Linked DNA regions of Homo sapiens. The protein of the gene in region 2 purifies or fractionates together with the protein of the main gene of each other region. This does not show direct contact. Each region holds a gene or a part of one and is shown on either strand. Other genes may lie near its edges. The genes, in order: EDEM3, LY9 and GUSB.

What was found.
Region 1: the proteins of LY9 (region 2) and EDEM3 purify together in Homo sapiens (affinity purification with mass spectrometry; one large-scale study listed by BioGRID and IntAct). This does not show direct contact.
Region 3: the proteins of LY9 (region 2) and GUSB purify together in Homo sapiens (affinity purification with mass spectrometry; one large-scale study listed by BioGRID and IntAct). This does not show direct contact.

The regions. Positions count from the first base shown.
Region 1 is NC_000001.11:184,748,244-184,751,895, forward strand, and holds part of EDEM3 (ER degradation-enhancing alpha-mannosidase-like protein 3 isoform 2 precursor), read right to left. Parts: intron 1,350-3,652; coding exon 1,304-1,349; intron 1-1,303. UniProt on the Homo sapiens protein: Involved in endoplasmic reticulum-associated degradation (ERAD). Accelerates the glycoprotein ERAD by proteasomes, by catalyzing mannose trimming from Man8GlcNAc2 to Man7GlcNAc2 in the N-glycans.
Region 2 is NC_000001.11:160,816,571-160,820,222, reverse strand, and holds part of LY9 (T-lymphocyte surface antigen Ly-9 isoform a precursor), read right to left. Parts: intron 3,630-3,652; coding exon 3,360-3,629; intron 2,006-3,359; coding exon 1,904-2,005; intron 903-1,903; coding exon 849-902; intron 1-848. UniProt on the Homo sapiens protein: Self-ligand receptor of the signaling lymphocytic activation molecule (SLAM) family.
Region 3 is NC_000007.14:65,968,711-65,972,362, reverse strand, and holds part of GUSB (beta-glucuronidase isoform 1 precursor), read left to right. Parts: intron 1-1,996; coding exon 1,997-2,081; intron 2,082-3,652. UniProt on the Homo sapiens protein: Plays an important role in the degradation of dermatan and keratan sulfates.

The DNA.
Region 1 (3,652 bases), about 24 Mb from region 2:
CGAGACCAGCCTGGCCAACATGGTGAAACCCCATCTCTACCAAAAATACAAAAATTAGCCAGGCATGGTGGCACACACCTGTAATCCCAGCTACTCAGGAGGCTGAGGCAGGAGAATCACTTGAACCTGGGAGGTGGTGGCTGCAGTGAGCTGAGATAGTGCCGCTATACTCCACAGCCTGGGCGACAGAGCACAACTCCGTCTCAAAAAAAAAAACAAAAAACAAAAAACAAAAAAAACATTAAGGGAATGACTGAGGTCTTGAGAAATAAATTTGAAACTGTGTTTTTAATGTTGAAATGTATCCAAAAAAAATCATATCCTAAAAACATTAAGAACTCAAAATGTGCTCTCTCCAAATTTACAATATAAAAGAGAACGAGGACTGTCAAATATAAAACATGTTTTAAAACTAAAAATGCATAAATTACATATATTTAGATGTTCATAGATAACAATGATGTTAGTGTATGAAGATATTTGGTTAATATATGATAAAAAATGGATTCACAGAATCAGTTGAAAAATATTTTAAGCAGAACTAAAGCTAGTCCTCTGCCAAACTTTCCCAACTACATTTTATACGTTGTAATCATAGAAGAAAATCTGCTGACATATTTTAAAATGTAAAAACAAGGTTATAAGGGATAAGTTTCAGGATAATATGCTTAAACTCTTTTCAAATTACAATTTATGTGCAAAATTTTTTTTGAATTCCAGAATTTGCTATTTCATCTACGTTGTTGCACAACAGATCTCCAGAACTTTTCATCTTGTAAAACTGAAACTGCTATTTAATCTTAAGTGAGCCCTAAAACATTTTTAAATAATATGAATCAGCAAACTAAAAAGCAAAATATATTCAGTGCAGAGTCCATGAGGATACAATTAGGACAGAGGCTAAGTAACAATTTCTCTTTTAAGCAATGGTTTTCTTCAGTGTATAAATATTGTAAACATTTTTTTAAATTAAGAGAATAATCTCCCTTAAGACCAGAGATAACATCTTCATGTATATATCCACAATATCTAGCTATATAAAGCACTCAATGATAATTGTTGATGGCACCCAAGGAAGCTGTTTAAATAATGAAGTTTCATAATCTAATTTCAATTTATTCTTATCTGTTCAATAAACTGGTTCCCTAAAAACCACTACCAGAAAGACTATTTTTGCCCTGTTTTTTAAAAACTTCCTTTTAAAAAATGTAATTGTATTGTAGGTTTCAAAATTCCCAGTTGACTGTGCTCACATAATAATCAACTCACATAAATGGTAGGTAAAGATAAGCTTCCTACTTACCATATAGTTACCATAAGCATGATCAAACATTTCCAGTACTTGATTCCTAATTTTAAAAGAGCAGAAATGGAAAAAAAAAAAAAAAAAGGTAAGTATATTCTATTTATTATCTTTCAAAAAGTTAATTCTTCCTCATAAAAAATATACCAATAAAAACAAAAGAAAAATTTAGGTAGAAAGGGACATAAACAGAATCAGAAACTACAACAGCTAGCAGACAAGCTTTCATGAACTCACCACACAGAGCTGAGCCAAACTTTAATGATTACTAGTAATTTATGTACAATTCATCTTATAATTTTTCCTAAGAAAACTGATGAATGATAGATGCCATCATCAGAGAAGGAAATCTGATGCAGAAAAACAATGACCTCTTAACACAATTATTTAACGTATCTGTCTTGAAGCGGGGGTTTTGCTGGACAGCCCTTTAAAAAAACCATTATTATTGCCATTTATTGCTTCCCCTATATGTTCTACTAAGAGAGAGGTACACAGGTGTGTAGTGACATGAAATAACAACGCTTTATGAAGCCTCTGCCTTTGCACTTACATTGAATAAACCACTAATGCCTAGTTTAAGTACATATTTATTAATGTTTGTCATATTTTCAAAAGATACTTTTTATGATGTGCTCTACTCTAAAAAAACTGTCAAAAATCAAATAAATAGTATTCACTTCCAAAATGAGAAAACTAATGCTCAAAAAGAGAGTTGTGTGTTTTGGCGAATTCTGTTTCACAAAATCTCCGTAACCACTGTTTAAAATGGAGATGTCTGATCACTACACCAGAATTTTACTAAATCAAAACCTGTAAGGTTGCGACTGAGGAAGCAGCCTTTCAATTAAGCACTCTCAAGTTCAGGGACTTGAGGACTACAGGAAAAAGTACAAGTTAATTGTATGACCAGACAAGGCCAAATAATTAGCAAAGGAAAACACAGCTTAACAATTTTTTATTAACTTTTTCTTTTTTTTTTGAGACAGGGTCTCACTCTGTCACACCTAGGCTAGAGTGCAGTGGCACGATCTCAGCTCACTGCAACCTTCACCTCCCAGGTTCAAGCGATTCTCCTGCCTCAGCCTCCCGAGTAGCTGGGATTACAGGCGTCTGCCACCATGCCTGGCTAATTTTTGCATTTTCAGTAGAGACAGGGTTTTACCACGTTGGCCAGGCTGGTCTCGAACTCCTGACCTCATGTGATCCACCCGCCTCAGCCTCCCAAAGTGCTGGGATTACAGGTGTGAGTTACCACGCCCGGCCTATTAACTTTTCTTTTACCAAAGTTCCAATCACTGATGGCAAGAATTGAAAAAAGTGTTAAAGAAATTGCTGACTATATTTTTATTTGCCTCCTGTTATACTGCAATTGTCATTTTTAAAACTATAATCACAGATTATGAAATACTGGTAATAATAGAGCTAGCAAACAGAAAAGACCTCAGTTCCAGATCCTGACTATGAACACCAACAAAATCAAGTACACTCAAACTTGTGAACGAATTAAGTCCTGACAACATATGAATAATAACCACTTAAAAACATTTCATTATTTAAAAAAAGACCTTACCACCACTTTGCTAAAGCACTAATTCTTTGTAAGTTTACATATATATATATGTTTATATATATATAATTTTTATATTTGTGGTTTACAGCTCTAGACTCTTATCCTGTCCTAAGCAGAAAAAAAAAAGTTTAAAATGTCCCTTTCAGGAACTCATATCAATGAATGGAAGATGGAAGTCCTCTTTTTTTTCCTTCCCTGAAATGGAATACGAGATTATTACCAAGAAGTAGAAATTCCTATAATTGGCAATGGTAGTGCCTAGACATGTATATTACAAATGACATAAGCTTTAACTTGCTAACTCAACTTTACAAGCATTCAATTTTCAAGACTGTAAGTAAATCATGATTGCATACAAGGAGAATACACTATTTTCCAATCCTTACATTTATGCAGCATATGATGAGCAAATTTTAGAACACATATTTCAAAGTGGAGCTATTTAATATCATTGCTCTTACACATAGAAGCCTAACAAAGTCACATTTAAATACAGAATGGTATAATAATTACTATACTGAACAGAAAAAAAAATTTCCATAATGTTTTATCTATTCAAAAACTGGATTAAAATGTATTGGAAATCAGACCCAGTTCAAAAATTACACCACTCTTCAGTAATTTCTGTAAGTCGGCTTTTTCTCTTTTTTTGAGACAGAGTTTTGCTCTTGTTGCCCGGGCTGGAGTGCAATGGCACGATCTCTGCTCGCTGCAACCTTCGCCTCCAGGTTCAAGCGATTCTTCCTGCCTCAGCCTCCCGAGTAGCTGGGATTAAG
Region 2 (3,652 bases):
ACAGTCTCCTGAAGTTTAATTTTAATTAAGTTTTAAATTTTTTTCTACCACAGATGTACTGTTCCATCTGGCCTTTGTTTCTCTGTTCTCAGAATGGAGACAATAACTCCATCCTCATTGTAGTCCACATTCAAATGGTGAATGGCTAATGCCCAAGGAACCCTAGAGACCCTGGGGGACAGACTGCCTCTCCTAGCTCTGGTGACCATCTCTAAGGAGTCTATCTTGGCTTTTGTTTCTATGCTACCTTCCTTTTCAAACTTCAGTAGGCATATGAATCACTTATGGATCTTGTTAAAATACAGGTTTGGAATCAGTATTCTGGGGTGATGCCCAAGATTCCCTCCCTCCCTCCCTCCCTCCCTCCCTTCCTTCCTTCCTTCCTTTCTTTCTCTCTCTTTCTTTCTCTTTCTGTTTTTTTTTTTTTTTTTTGAGACAGAGTCTTGCCCTGTTGCCCAGACTGTAGTGCAGTGGCGTGATCTAGGCTGACTGCAACCTCCACCTCCCAGGTTAAATAGATTCTCATGCCTCAGCCTCCCGAGTAGCTGGGATTACAGGCGTGCACCACCATGCCCAGATAATTTTTTCTATTTTTAGTAGAGACAGGGTTTCACTTTGTTGGCCAGGCTGGTCTTGAACTCCTGGCCTCAAGTGATCTACCTGCCTCAGCCTCCCGAAGTGCTGGGATTACAGGTGTGAGCCACGGCACCTGGTCAGATTTTGCATTTCTAACAAGTTTCCTGGGTGATGCCCACACTGCTGGCCAGCAGACCACACTTTGAGCAGCAAGACTTTAGAACTTCCATTTGGACCAGATACCCCATAGCCTGTGTCATGGGTGATGTTACCTGGTGTATCCGCTGGGGCCTCAGCTTGGCTGGAACAGAAGGCTGGGACTGAACCTGAGAAACAAAGTTAGAGAAGGTTTATCAAGAGGGCTGTGAGGTGAGAGGTGTCTTTTATTCTGTGAGAGTCAAATGAGAAGGGGAGAGACTTCTGGGACATAGACAGGGAAAAGGCTTCAGGAAGGAGGATGAACCCTGATGAGAAGCCAGGCCTATGTGAAGGGGTGGCCAGAGTCTAGGGCTACTTTCTGCAGAGGTGGAGGCTCTGGAGCTTCCTGCCATCCCTCCAGAAGAGAGAGCTCCTCTGCCATAGCCACTGATCAGAGTAGTTTGCCTGCAATTCAGTAATTCTTCCAGGGACCCCATGTGTTCTACCCATTCTGCTCTTTTTGGCTACTACTTCATTTCCACTCCAATACTGGGATTCTAGAGGAGCTGCCAATCATAATAGTGTATCTTCTTGGCTATAGAAATTGGTCCAAGCAGCAGCCACATGACCTTAACTTGGGCCAATCAGAGCTATTTCTGACATTCTTTAAATTGGAGTTAGAGGGAAGCACATTTTCTTCCCTGTCTGGTGTCGGAGCTGTTAGTATGTGTGGGTCTGGAGCTGCCAGCTGTTGTGTTGTGGTACACTCCTCCCCTCGCTCCCACCCCTTCCCTCAGCGGGCTGCAGTAGGAAGAGTTAAGCTGACTCAAAATACACAGTAGAGATGAAAGGTGGAGAGCTCTGATGACTTTTGAGCCTCTGGTGACATTTCTCCATTATGCCAGCTCTATCCCTGCCTTCCCCACAGATTGATTATTTAAGTGAAAAAATAATAAATCACTCTCCCTGCTCCCACATGCCTTTTTTTTTCTGTCTAAGCCAGTTTGAACTGGGCTTCTATTATTTGTGAGTAAAGAGTCCCAACTGACACCCCTCCCCCATTGCTCTGAGAAGAAATAAGATGCTGGCAGGGAGGGGTAGCACGGGATTGTGTGAGGGCAGAGAAGCCTCCACAAGTCCCAGGGAAATGGCCTAGCACTGGCGGACAACATTGATCTCGGAAACTCACACCGTCCTTTTCGCTTCCAAATGCACCAGCTGAAGATCCCAACGCACAGAAGGCAAACCATCAGGAACAACCCAATCCAAAGCTTTGTGTTTCTCTCAGGTCCTTTGAGGAGGAAATGAGTGATGTTAATTCAAATAATGACAAGACACACTGGAGCAAACAATGCACAGAACATGATGGCCATCCTACCTGCCCCTTAAAATCCATGACGTTGTGGAAAGTCTTTCTTTTCATTCATTCTACAACCATTTTTCGAGCAAGCATTACTCTAGGCAAGAGGTTATAGCAGTACCTGAGGCAGACAGTCCCTGGGTAGAGAGGTTTACGGCTTGCCCAGTGTCACAGTGTTTCAAGTGTCTGACCTGAGGTTCGAGTGCAGATCCTACAGCGCCCTTAATCGCCACATTACACTGCCCCGCTGTAAATGATATGAGGGGAGTTCCAGATTCCTGTTAAGCTGGACTCTAGATCTGTCTGCCAGACACAATCTGACCCAACATTGTCAGATCCTGGGTAGACCGTACCTTTTTTCTGCTTCCTTCTACGGAAGAGCAGAAGATAGAGCTCAGGGTTCGAAACCAGCTTTTATGGTGTGACCTTGGATAAGTCCCTTATCTTTTCTGAGCCTCAGTTTCTTTATCCATATAAAGGGGAAAAACGAGAATATCTACTCTGTAGGATTGTTGCGAAGATTGTGCAAAAATGCCTGAAGGCCTAGAATAGTACTTAGCATTTATTAAGGGCCACTGGGGCTTCTTTTCTAGCTCCCACTCACGCAGCCTTTGTTCCTGTGTGGTCCACATCCCTTTCCATATCAGCTTCCTATTGGCTTTTCTCCACAAGCCTGTAACTCTGTGCTGTTCAATATGGTAGCCACAAGCTATGCATAAGCCCTTGAAGTGTGGCTAGTATTACTGAGACACCAAATTGCTTCTTTTATTTAGTTTTAGTTTAAATTTAAAAATGGCTACTCAATTCCTTCTTGAAAAACTGATAAATATGCTTGGAATAACTTGGGTGCATAAATCTATTTTTTCAACTGTAAATTTTACGAAGTCTGAATATAGATTAAACACTTTCAGTGAAAATTTAGCATCGGAATCGAGACGTGCTCTAAGTGTAAAATACATACTGGCTCTCAAAGACTTAGTACAAAATAAAATGTAGTGTCTAATGAATTTTTTTGTATTGAATACACGTTGAATAATGATATTTTGGATATATTCAGTTAAATAAAACATATTATTAAAATAACTTTATTTCTTCTTGCTTTTTCTAACGTGGCTATTAGAACATTAAAATCACATGCGTGACTCTCATATATCTGTGGAAGCATGCCACTCTAAAGGGCTCTCACCCACAGCCTCTTACTGCACTTCATAAAGAATCAGTCAGGATGCAAACTCTTGGAGGCCCCAAGGTCCTGTGACCTGAGTAAATAGAGATGGAGAGAAACCTGAACAGATGTTCTCAGAAAGAAACTGGTGGGAACTCCTGCTGACAGGGTTGCTGGCTGTGCATGTGAGGTTGGGGTGATTTTCACTGCTTCTCCATGAGACATTGAGGTGTGATTCCCCTTGGGACACAACAGCTTCCTTCTGCAGCGGGGTCCATGTGTACATGACAGTGTTTCCCCCGTCCTCCACGGAGCAGGTCAGGCTGATCCTGCAGATGCCATCCTCACTGTGCCTGAGGCTCCACGTGATTTTGGGCTTCCTCAGCCTGCCTGTGAGGAGAGAGGCAGACTCC
Region 3 (3,652 bases), on a different chromosome or scaffold from region 2:
TATTGAAACCCTGTCTCTACTAAAAATAAAACAATTAGCGGAACACAGAGGTGGGCGTCTGTAATCCCAGCTACTTGGGAGGCTGAGGCAGGAGAATTGCTTGAGCCCAGGAGGTGGAGGTTGCAGTGAGCCAAGATCATGTCATTGCACTCCAGCCTGGGCTACAGAGTGAGATTCTGTCTCTCAAAAAAACAAAAACAAAAACAGTCTGTACTGTGGAGGCCTCGGGCAGGTGCCAGGAGCTCTGAGCACAGACGGGTCCCTCTGTTGGGTTTTTCTTCCCTTCTAAGGGCCATTTCTTCTTATTTATTTATTTATTTTTTGAGATGGAGTTTTGCACTTGTTGCCCAGGCTGGAGTGCAATGGCACAATCTCGGCTCACCACAACCTCTGCCTCCTGGGTTCAAGTGATTCTCCCGCCTCAGCCTCCCGAGTAGCTGGGATTACAGGCATGCGCCACCACGCCCAGCTAATTTGTATTTTTAGTAGATATGGGGTTTCTCCGTGTTGGTCAGGCTGGTCTCGAACTCCCAACCTCAGGTTATCTGCCTGCCTCAGCCTCCCAAATAGCTGGGGCCACAGGTGTGTGCGGCCATGTCAGGCTAAGTTTAAATTTTTTTTTTTTTTTCCGCAAGATGGAGTCTTGCTTGTTGCCCAGGCTGGAGAGCACTGGTGCAATTTTGGCTCACTACAACCTCTACCTCCTGGGTTCAGGCAATTCTTCTGCCTCAGCCTCATGAGTAGCTGGGATTCCAGGCGCATGCCACCATGCCCAGCTAGGTTTTTTTTGTATTTTTTTGTAGAGATAGACTTTTACCATGTTGACCAGGCTGGTCTCAAACTCTTGACCTCATGATCCACCCGCCTCGGCCTCCCAAAGTGTTGGGATTACAGGCGTGAGCCACCATGCCCGCCCCTAATTTTTAAATTTGTTGTAGAAACAAGGTCTTGCTATGTTGCCCAGGCTGGTCTTGAACTCCTGGTCTCTGGTAAAACTCCCAAAGTGCTGGGATTCTAGGCGTGAGCCGCCTTGCCCGGCACTTGCACCATTTCTCTGCATGCGTCTCCACTCCCACTGCCCAGGACCTGTGGACTTAGATTTGAGTCACTGCTGAGCACCTCGCACCTAGCCCCATGCCTGCCTCCCAGCCTGCACTCCGTTTGCTTGATGCATTAATAAATATCCCTCCCAAATCTGCATCCATCCACCTCCTGTGTTCAAGAGCTGTTTCAGGGCGTCAACCTCATTTTTGCCAGTGTCCAGCCTAGTGACCTCAGCTCTGTGTACCTGGAAGAGTGGCTGCTCCTCTGGGGGTATAGGATTCGGAGATGGGGGTAGAAGGAGTGATGTTAGAGAGCTCGGTCTAGGACTAGAGGATCATATGCCCTTATGTAAAATACATCTCAAGTTAGGGAAGAAAGCAGCGGCTCCATGCTTTTTTTTTTTTCCCCTTTGTTTTTGTTTGTTTGTTTTGAGACAGGGTCTTGCTCTGTGGACCAGGCTGGAGTGCAGTGGCATGATCTTGGCCCACTGCAGACTCCTCCTTCTGGGTTCACGCCATTCTTCTGCCTCAGCCTCCTGAGTAGCTCAGACTATAGGCGCCGGCCACCACGCCCGGCTAATTTTTTGTATTTTTAGTAGAGACGGGGTTTCACCGTGTTAGGATGGTATCGATCTCCTGACCTTGTGATCTGCCCGCCTCGGCCTCCCAAAGTGCTGGGATTACAGGCGTGAGCCACTGCGCCTGGCCGCTAATTTTTGTATTTGTAGTAGATAGAGTTGGGGTTTCACCATGTTGGCCAGGCTGATCTTGAACTCCTGACCTCAAGTGATCCACCCACCTCGGCCTCCCAAAGTGCTGGGATTACAGGTGTGAACCATCGTGCCTGGCCCCGTGTTGTGTTCTGGCGGTGGAAGATGGGACAGAGAGGATGGGAGGGTGTCTGAGCCATTCCTGGACTGATGGAACCTGTTTCTTCTGCCTTTTGTGGACAGGATGGTGATCGCTCACACCAAATCCTTGGACCCCTCCCGGCCTGTGACCTTTGTGAGCAACTCTAACTATGCAGCAGACAAGGGGGTGAGCCTGGGGGTCCCCACCCCACTTCTCCCTGCCTTTGCCTGGGCTTGTCCTGAAGCCTGGTCATGGGAACAGCCAGGAAGAACCATGCGCTGCCAGTCTGGGTTTTATTTCATTTTCTTTTTTACTTAAAAAGATAGAGACAGGGTCTTGCCATGTTGCCCAGGCTGGTCTCCAACTCCTGGGCTCAAGCAATCCTCCTGCCTTGGCCTCCCAAAGGGCTGGGGTTACAGGTGTGGGCCACCACACCCCGGCCGCAGCCAGTCTGTTTTCACAGATGGTCTTTGGGTTAATGAGAATTCTCCCCCTGCTTACTCGCCAGGCAGTGTGGCTTTCTCAATCCAAGGAGGCTGGGCATAGGGAGATGGGATTTGTTTGCTCAGTTTGGACTCAGCATTTTTTGCACTTCGATTTAATAGACTCATAAAACATCAAAGATTTAAGGGAGCTTAGAGTTCATCTGGCCCACACCTGGCTGATGAGAATCTCTAGGGGAAGTTTTTATGAAATGCCAGATCTCTGCATTCTGAGGTCCTGATTTAGTACGTCCAGGGTTGGAACTTGAGTTTTTCTTTTTCTTTTGTAGAGGCAAGGTCTTACTCTCTTGCCCTGGCTGGAGTGCAGTGGTGCAATCACAGCTCACTGCAGCCTTGAATTCCTGAGCCCAAGTGATCCTCCTGCCTCAGCCTCCCGAGTAGCTGGGACTCCAGGTTTTCACCACTGCGCCTAGCTAATTTTATATCTTTTTGTAGAGGTGGCATCTCTCTATGTTGCCCAGGCTGGTCTCAAAGTCTTGAGCTCAAGTGATCTCCTGCCTTGGCCTCCCAAAGTGCTGTGATTACAGGCATGAGTTGCAGTGCCTGGCTGACATTAGCATTCTTTATTTATTTATTTATTTATTTTGAGATGGAATCTTGCTCTGTTGCCCAGGCTTGAGTGAAATGGTGCAATCTCAGCTCGCTGCAACCTCGTCCTCCCAGGTTCAAGCAATTCTGCCTCGGCCTCCTGAGTAGCTGGGATTACAGGTGCATGCCACCACACCCAGCTAATTTTTGTATTTTTTAGTAGAGATGGGGTTTTGCCATGTTAGCCAGGCTGGTCTCAAACTGCTGATCTCAGGTGATCTGCCCACTTTGGCCTCCCAACGTGCTGGGATTACAGGCGTGAGCCACCACACCCGGCCAGCATTTTTACTAGAAAGAAATGTGTTCAGGACGCATTAGAAACTAGCCAGTTGGACACAGAAGCCCCTGCTGCTCAGCTGTAAGCACCGCTATGCTGAAGCTTGGGGTGGTCCTACTCGGTCGTCACCGCCCTGCTCCTTGGAGTGACTTTTCTGGCCCTCTGCAGTCCACAGTGCTGCCTTGTGAAAGCTCCCTCAAGATCCTCTGTGACAGCCGGGCATGGTGGCTTACACCTATCATCCCAGCACTTTGGGAGGCCGAGGCAGGCAGATTACTTGAGATCAGGAGTTCAAGACCAGCCCAGCCAACTGGTGAAACTTCATTTCTACCAAAAATACAAAAAATTAGCTGGGCGTGGTGGCGCACGCCTGTAATCCTAGCTACTCG